Linked DNA regions of Homo sapiens: region 2 is linked to region 1. A link means that fine-mapping ties the variant in region 1 to the expression of a gene that starts in the linked region. Tissue or cell type: whole blood. Region 1 holds a variant in brackets; the other region holds the start of a gene. All regions are shown on one strand. Distances are from middle to middle.

The links. PIP is the estimated chance that this variant, and not a neighbour inherited with it, causes the effect. A credible set is the group of variants that fine-mapping cannot tell apart.
Region 2: it holds the start of DNTT, and the variant in region 1 is the best candidate, but not a certain one, in a credible set for the expression of DNTT in whole blood (TOPMed, PIP 0.80).

The regions. Positions count from the first base shown.
Region 1 is chr10:96,234,489-96,238,729 of GRCh38, forward strand. The region is part of intron 3 of BLNK (B cell linker); the gene reads right to left. It overlaps LOC124902487 (a long non-coding RNA gene), which reads right to left. Exons shown (of 3, transcript XR_007062255.1): 2 at 1-3,883. Among named protein-coding and RNA genes, the nearest start is that of BLNK, 35 kb to the right of the region's middle. RefSeq lists enhancers at 1,751-2,250, 1,920-2,019. The variant A/G (reference allele first, on the strand shown) is at 1,791.
Region 2 is chr10:96,302,517-96,306,757 of GRCh38, forward strand. DNTT (DNA nucleotidylexotransferase) reads left to right here and starts at 1,918. Exons shown (of 11, transcript NM_004088.4): 1 at 1,918-2,184. The coding sequence starts at 1,982.

The sequences.
Region 1 (4,241 bases):
TTCTAGGTTCAAATCCTGGCTCTGACCTTTACAAGCTGCTTGGTCTTGGACCAATAATTTAATATTGTTTAAAGCTTCATTTCCTCACCCGTAAAGCAAGGATAAGAACAGTGCCTGTATCATATTTTTGTGAGAATCAAATAATAAAATACATCTGAAGCTCTTAGCAAAGCCTGGCACACAGTAATGCTTTAGTAATGTTACCGTCATCTTGAGCATTGCAAAGAATGCCTCAATTAACACTCAAAACACCACTGATTCTAATTTACTCCCACGTCAATCACACACTATGGCTACCACAAAGGCATGGATCCAAGAAAGCCTCTATTGTAGTGAGTAAAATTTGGGGGAGAAGTTCAAGCTTCATGTGGGCCAGGTGGATTGATTTTGTTTGTGTGATTCCATGGTCTCTGCCAGGAAGCTGAGATCCTGGGCGGGCCCTCTTGTCAGTTAAAGCCTTTCCTATGGTGTGGTTTACCTGGTTTGGGGCTTATGCTCCATTTACCATGTCATAATCCCATGCCACACAATAGAGGGACTCCTCCCTTTGCCTGACCCAGGTTTTAAGATTCATGTAGCCCTCCCCAGCCTGTGGGCACAGCACCAGACACAAGGAGATGTGAGAATGGCCACAGCGGCCCACATTTGGGCTTAAGCTCTGGGGTCAGACTGCCTAACTTAGAATCCTTATTCTGCCATTTTCTAGGAGTGAGATCTTAGCTGAATTGCTTCACCTCTGGGCCTCAGCTTCCCCTTTGCTAAAATGGACATTATTAATCGTGCTTAGAAGAGTATCTGACATAGAGTAAAGGGCTCAATGAATGTTAGCTATTACAATGAATTTACAGTCTCTGCAATTCTCAGAACAATCTAAAGGATAGGTATTCTTATCCCCAGGTCAGAAATTGGAGGCTCACTCAAATTACAAAACTGTTCCAAGTTCACACAGTGCTTAGGGAGCAAAGCCAGGATTCCAACCCAGGCCTAAAGGACCTCAGAGTCCAAGGTCTTCTCACCAAGCCACACTTCATAATACAAATAAAGACTAAGGGCCAGAAGAATGACCACATGAGACTGGGAAAACTCAGGGCCATGTAGTTTTCTGAGAAATGTCCCCACACCTGGAATCATTGCCAGGAGCGGGGAAAGTTCAGAGAAAGGTGTGCCCAGTGACAGCCAAAAACTTGCATGAGGCCATGTGCCCGAGGTGGGGCCGAATGGGGCCTTGAAGGATGAGCAGGATTTGGGTGAGAGAATAAGGATGAAGGAGTGTGTCTTCCTCCATCATCTGAGAGAGGGGCTTATGTGTCAGCCCCAGAAGCAGGGCTTAGAGGCAGATGTGTGCAGAATGAATGCGCTGGGCTGGAGAGGGACAGGAGATTCTGCTGAGCGCTCACACAAATCTGATGTGCTGCCGGCCAGTGGGGGCTCCAGCCATAGTGGACACCGCAGGCTCCAGTGACAAGCTGAGATGGGGAGCTGATGAGGTTGGTGTTTAGGAACTCAGGCATGGAAAGACGAAAGCTGATCCAGACCAGGGGGTCTGGGAATGGGAAGGGATGGCTGGAAGGACAGTACAGGACTCTGTGGTGGTGGCTGGGGCAAAGGGAGTATGAATCCAGCCTCTCAGTTCTGAGTCAATAGGAGCACCAGAGCCCCTGGGGCAGATGCTGGTGGCATCACAGCATGTCTGACATTCTGCCTCAGCTGCAGCCCTGATCCTGCTCTGGAGGCTACCCGGCCGCCAGACCCTGCCCATCTCTCCCCCAACAGAGCAGGTGGTGGCATGC[A/G]GGGAGCCAGTGGGAAGACCGCAGCAGGACACAGAAGGAAGGAAAGAGGGAGGGTGGGCCAGTTGTGGTGGTGGGGACAGACACCGAAAAGGAACAGAAAGCAGAACTACAGAGGCTGCAGGGGAGGCGGTGGGTGGCCAGTCCCACCAGTGCCGCCCTAAGAGGAGAAAGGGACATGATTTAATGTGGGGAACTGAGGACAAGACCCAGATTCAGGCTGGCTGAGAGAGGTGTTCTGAGTCTAAATACTTAACATCTTAGGCCAGGCATGGTGGGCTCACACCTGTAATCCCAGCACTTTGGGAGGCCAGGGCAGGAGGATCACTGGAGGCCGGGAATTTGAGAACACCCTGGACAACATAGTGAGACATTGTCTCTACAAAAAAGATTTTAGAAAATTAGCCAGGCATGGTGGCACATGCCTGTGGTCCCAGCTACTCAGGAGGCTGAAGCAGGAGGATCACTTGAGCCCAGGAGGTTGAGGCTGCAGTGAGCCATGATTGTACCCCTGGACCCCAGCCTGGGTGACAGGGCGAGACCCCGTCTCAAAAAAAGAAAAAAGAAATACTTATCATCGTAGAAACTCCCTTTGTCTGTATGTCTACTCATCCCTTCACAGGATCATTAACAGAGGGGTGGGGGTACAGCAATGGGGGACATAGTCCTGGCTCAGCCATCACCTCACTGCATGACCTCAGGAGTCACTTTGCCTCTCTGGTCTCCAGTTATTCCTAAAATGAGAAGCTTGGGTTGGGCAATCCTTCAGGAATTTCTAAGCTTTAAAATACCTTTGAGCCCAAGTGTCATTCCTCTATTCTTAGTTCCCTATGGCAGGACTGATGTTGGATATAGCTCTCCCATGTCAGCGTAAGACCAGTACCTCCAGGGGAATATGGACAGGGAGACAGAAAACCAGGTAAATGCTGGCTCCACTAGGAGCACCAGGCCCATGACAAAAGCAATGTTAAATCTCACTTCTTTAGTGGACAAAGGATTGTTATGCATACCCCATACTTCTGTGTGGGCATTTACCCAAGAATCCCTGTCCAAGTGCCTTCTTTGCTCTGGATTTTTATTTTTTTCCATGTAAGTGAGTTTGCCACCCCTCCACCCTATATTTGCTCTGATCTCCTCCCTGCATGATAGCAGAGCCAGAGGAGTCACACGTGGACCTCCCAGGGATGCCACCCCATCAGAGCCCTGGACATCAGAGCCCAAGAGTGCAAGAGAGGGGCTCTGTTCAGTTCTGACTCCTCAAGGACTTGTGGGGTAACCAATGGGGCATCTGCAGTGATCCCAGCAGACTCTCGGGCACCATGACTGGTCTCTCCCTGACCTCCATCCCCAGCCAGACCTCAGACTTCAAAGATACCGAAGGCTGTTCAACTGTGAAAGCTCAGGAACTGGGAAGCGAGTTCTTGCATTAATGTCAGGAGCTCTAGTGCCTTCAGAATAAGAAAAAAGTTCCCCCAAAAGCATGAACACTTGAGCTTGGGTCAAAGCAAGGAGCTGCAAAATGGGAGTCTGGGATGGGTTTTCCTCTTAGTGGCTGCAGTCACCTTGGACAGGATACTTAATGTCCTTGAGACACATTTTCCTCATCTGCAAAACCGAGATCGTAATTTCTATATAACGGTGCTAATGAGAAGATTAAATGAGATATGTCTGTGAAGAGCTTAGCTTAATGCCCAGAACAGAGTCAATACTCAACAGATTTTGGATATCTTCCCTTCCCACAGCAATGCCAGCTGCTTGGGGCAATGCATTCTGCCCAGTGGGCCAGCAGTTCCTTAGGGGCGATGTTTCCTCCTCAGGGAAAGACTGAACTGGGATTGCTGGGTCTGAACTGAAGGCAGCAGGCTCCACACTGGCCTGACCTGCATCCCTGGAGGAGACCCAGCTCTCCATTCTTTGTGTAATTCAAGCTTTGTCCTTCTGTACTCTAACTAGGGAAGAGGGTATGGTGACTCTTTTACTGACCTCCTGTGGGGCAGTTGCTGGTCCTTTCTATCCTCTGCTCTCTGAAGGTCAGCATCACCAAGGTCAACACACTCTTGGCTTAGAGGGTTTTGGGAAGCCATTTGTTTCCAGAACTGGAAAGAGGACATAAATCCAATGTGTGGGGGGAAAATGGCTGGAGCATTTCAGGAGCCTTTGGTGGATCAAGTGCTCCACAGGGCACGTGATTGGCCTCCCAGGCTCAGGAGGTCTGGTGGGCTCTGGCCTCCACACACTACAGTTTCCAAGATCCTAAAGACTCCCCAGGTTCAGGAGGAGCTCTCAGGGCTGATTTCTGAGGCCCTGGACGTGCAGCTGTGCAGAAACCTCAAGGCTCAGGGGAAGCAGCTGGAAATGCTCCTGGGATGTGAACTGGGGTGGGGGAGAGAACGGCAAGGGAGGATGCTAACTGCAGGTGGTGATGGTGGTTTTGGACCATTTCCGGGGATTGAG
Region 2 (4,241 bases), 68 kb after region 1:
ACTGCATTCTAACATGAAGCATTCAGCTCTTCAGTAACCAAACACATAATAGTGAGGGTCAAAATAGACTCTCATCTTCCAGTTGATCTCTAGCAAACAGTCATAGCATCCGGGAATTTCAGGGCTGCATTATAGGCCCTTACCAGATGTCTGAATTCCCTTCTGTTACAGCTCAATAAACAGTTATCCAGCATCTGTTTGAATACTTTTCATGACTTGTAACACACAACTGTATAAAGCTGCTCTCTGTATATTTTTAGACAGCTGAGTTACTAAACAGGTCTTACTTGCGGAGAACTGGAATCTATTACTCTACAATTTCCACCTGAAGATTTCTGATTTTGCTTTCTTGAGCAACACAGAGTGCTTTACCCATGCCTTAAGGCAGCTGTCACATGACTCTTCCCCTAATACGGTTGTGAGGTGCTCACGTGTTTTGGAGATAGCAAAAGTCTCAAATAATATGGCACAGACGGCCAGCCATGGTGGCTCACACCTGTAATCCCAGCACTCTGAGAGGCCGAGGTGGGCCGATCACCTGAGGTCAGGAGTTCAAGACCAGCCTGACCAACATGGTGAAACCCCATCTCTACTAAAAATACAAAAATTAGCCAGGCGTGGTGGCGTGCGCCTGTAATCCCAGCTATTCAGGAGGCTGAGGTAGCAGGATCGCTTGAACCCAGGAGGTGGAGGTTGCAGTGAGCTGAGATTGTGTCACTGCACTCTAGCCTGGGCAATAAGAGCGAAACTCCATCTCCAAAAAAAAAAAAAAGGACAAAGGGTGAGCAGAGCTCAGATTGGTTATTGGAGAAGACAATACAGAGGAAGGCTCCTTGGTGGTTAAGAGTAGTCTTTTAAAATCAGACAGATCTGAGTCCAAATCCTAGCTCAATCATTTCTCAGTTGTGAAAATTCAGTAGCTCTGTGACCTTGGGCAAATTGTTTAGCCAAATGAGAAAGGTAGGACCACCTGACAGTGGTATTGTGAGGATCCTGTCAGCTAAGGCTGGTAGGTGCTTGCCTTGGCCGTGTAGTAGCTGCTCAGGAAATGAGATCTATAGAGTGTATTGGTGAAAGACAAATTTAATTTTGCACATAAAGTTATGAAAATGTCTCCTTATGGCAGTGGTTATCATCTAAAAGTCATACCATCCCACTGAAGAAGACCTATTTTAGGGTTTATAACAGACTACTCTCTGGACAACCTTAATCCACTTAAAAAACTAATATATGCATACAGCATTTGGAATCCAAAGAACTGAATTCAAGATATGGCTTGGCCCCTTATTCTGTGATCTTGAATAACTGAGCCTTGGTTCTCTTGCTTATAAAATGTACCTATGTAAGTGAACAGGTGGTAATACCCACCATGAAATACTATGGAGCAGTTAGAAGCAACAGAGCAATTAGAATACGGATCTGGAAAACATAGTTCCAAGTGAAATAAAAAGGTGATTGGCAAAATGAGAAATGTAACAATGCCATTTATGTAAAGTCAAAACAACCACAAGCAGAATATAACACCCATGCAAATAACAGACATCCAGTACAGTGTAATGATTGTCTACAAAAGGAGGAGAATGCAAGTGAGTTGGGAGGTTTAAAGGGGATCAATAAATAAAGACCACAGAAGGGCCTCAGTACATTTAGAAATAAATAACATGCAAACAATGATGCTTCCCTACCTTCCTCACGAGGTTACTCTGAGGAGCTAATGAGATTGTGCGTATGAAAACAAAAGTTAATTGACTGTCTTCATTATGATCTCCATATTGGACAAATGAACTGAACAGAGATAAAAATTCCCCATCACACTTTGGCAGGAAGCTGTTGCCAGGGCAGCACCTGTGAAGCCCTGGCCTGGCTTCAGAGTCTGCTGGTGAGATGACATCAAAACCCTTCGTGTAGGAGGGTGGCAGTCTCCCTCCCTTCTGGAGACACCACCAGATGGGCCAGCCAGAGGCAGCAGCAGCCTCTTCCCATGGATCCACCACGAGCGTCCCACTTGAGCCCTCGGAAGAAGAGACCCCGGCAGACGGGTGCCTTGATGGCCTCCTCTCCTCAAGACATCAAATTTCAAGATTTGGTCGTCTTCATTTTGGAGAAGAAAATGGGAACCACCCGCAGAGCGTTCCTCATGGAGCTGGCCCGCAGGAAAGGGTTCAGGGTTGAAAATGAGCTCAGGTAGGACAGCATCGATCTTGCTTTGTAAATAAGCAGAGGCTTTGTGAACAGCTTCTTGGGAACCCAAGGAACCTGTGTTTTCTTCCACATGTGGAAGAGGTGATCTTCCCACTGGGAGAACAGCAGATTTGAAATCAAAGAACAACTAGTTAAGGAAAACGAGATAAGTGGGGACTGAATACAATTATATTGAAACTAGTTGACACCAAAAGATGAGATAAATTTTTTGTTTTTTGCTTTTCACTCCTATGAGATGTGTTATTTAGGGATGATAAGCAGAACACTAATTGGAAAATTTAATGCTGAACCACTCAATTCTATTCTTGACCAATTTGAACAAAGTATCACTGGGTTCAACAAAAAAGTTTTGGCTACTTTGATGCAGAAAGATGATTTGGTTGCTTGGTTCTTACCTATACATCTGGGCGTGCTAAGGCAGCTAGCATCTGTGGTGGGCGAGGATGACTAGCCAGCTTACCACAGGCACCCAGATGTGGCCTTGACCACATTTTTCCAAAGAGTGGTCCTAGTGGGGTTCTTAGAAAGAGAGATGCTAGGTAAAGATGTATTCACTGTTAAGACAGCTCTGTCCAGGGATGACAGACATCACACTGAGTGAGATGTAATCAGAGCCCAGGCAAGGAGGCGATAGAAGCATTTGGACCACCTAGATTGGTTCACTCACTAATCCACTCACCTTGAACAGCAATTATTCTTGTTGTTTTTCTAACTTCTGTGTAAGCTCTTCACTGATCTCAAATAGATGAAGAGAAAACAAGCAAAATCCAGAAACAAATGGTATTAGAACCTTGACATAAGTGATGGTTCTGGATTAAACTGTTAAGGGGCTTGCAATGAAGGAGTAATGATTTATGCAGTTGACCGCTTTGACTGTGCAAGAAATAAATTGACCACAAATTTTCAGGCAAAACTATAAAAATTTTATGTGAAAGGACATTTTGATTGTATAAATAGTCTTTGATATTTGAAAATAAAACTGACAAGCATGTCATGCAGAAGAAATGTCAGCTTCCAAGTGTTGAGGAGACATATTTCAAAAGTCAATTTTCAGATATGTTAATGTTCGCAACACCCTGATTCATATGACATTGACTTTTCATTCATTTTTTGCTAAAATGCCCCATTCAGAAATTCCTGAATTTCCTATGGCCCTTCTTCCACCTGATTTCTCTTTGCAAGGTCTCCTTTTCTCTCTTGCTGCCTCTCTGTAACCTCCTACAGCCACTCTGAATCTCATTTTCTAACATCCTTTCCAAGAAAATCCTAGATTTCATCTAACTGTTAAGCCTGCCTGATATTACAGACTTACATAGAAGGCTAGAGTTGGAGAAGACAGGAAGATTATATAGGTAAAGAAGCCAAAAAAATAGATTTTTTTTTTTTTTTTTTTGAGACAGAGTCTTGCTCTGTTGCCCGGGTTGGAGTGCAGTGGCACAATCTCGGCTCACTGCAACCTCCGCCTCCCAGGTGCAAGTGATTCTCCTGCCTCAGCCTCCCAAGTAGCTGGGACTACGGACACGCGCCACCACAATCAGCTAATTTTTGTGTTTTTAGTAGAGACGGGGTTTCACTATGTTGACCAGGATGGTCTCTATCTCCTGACTTTGTAATCCGCCTGCCTTGGCCTCCCAAAGTGCTGGGATTACAGGCATGAGCCACCACGTCTGGCCAAAAATAGATTTTTTGGAAAAGAAATTAAAAGCCTTAGCAAATATGGAACTGCTTTTCATGGTAAAGAAATTTGACAAGGGTTAGGCAGGAAGGAAAGAACCAGAAGCACCACTTACTGGAAAGCTCTCCATTGAAACGTCCAAGCTTCCAGCAAGGACCCGCTGATTTATTATAGACACAGCAATGAATACATACAAGGCGGCTGAGGCAGGCACTCAGGGAGATGATGGGAGGTAAGTTTCTTCTGTTGGCAGGACAGCTGAAGAGGCAGCTACATGCCCCAGATGCCTGCTGCCAGGGACCAAGCCCAGCTGCTCAGGCGGCGGAGGAAGCTCACTGGTGCATGGTGAGCAAACTGCCGCTGT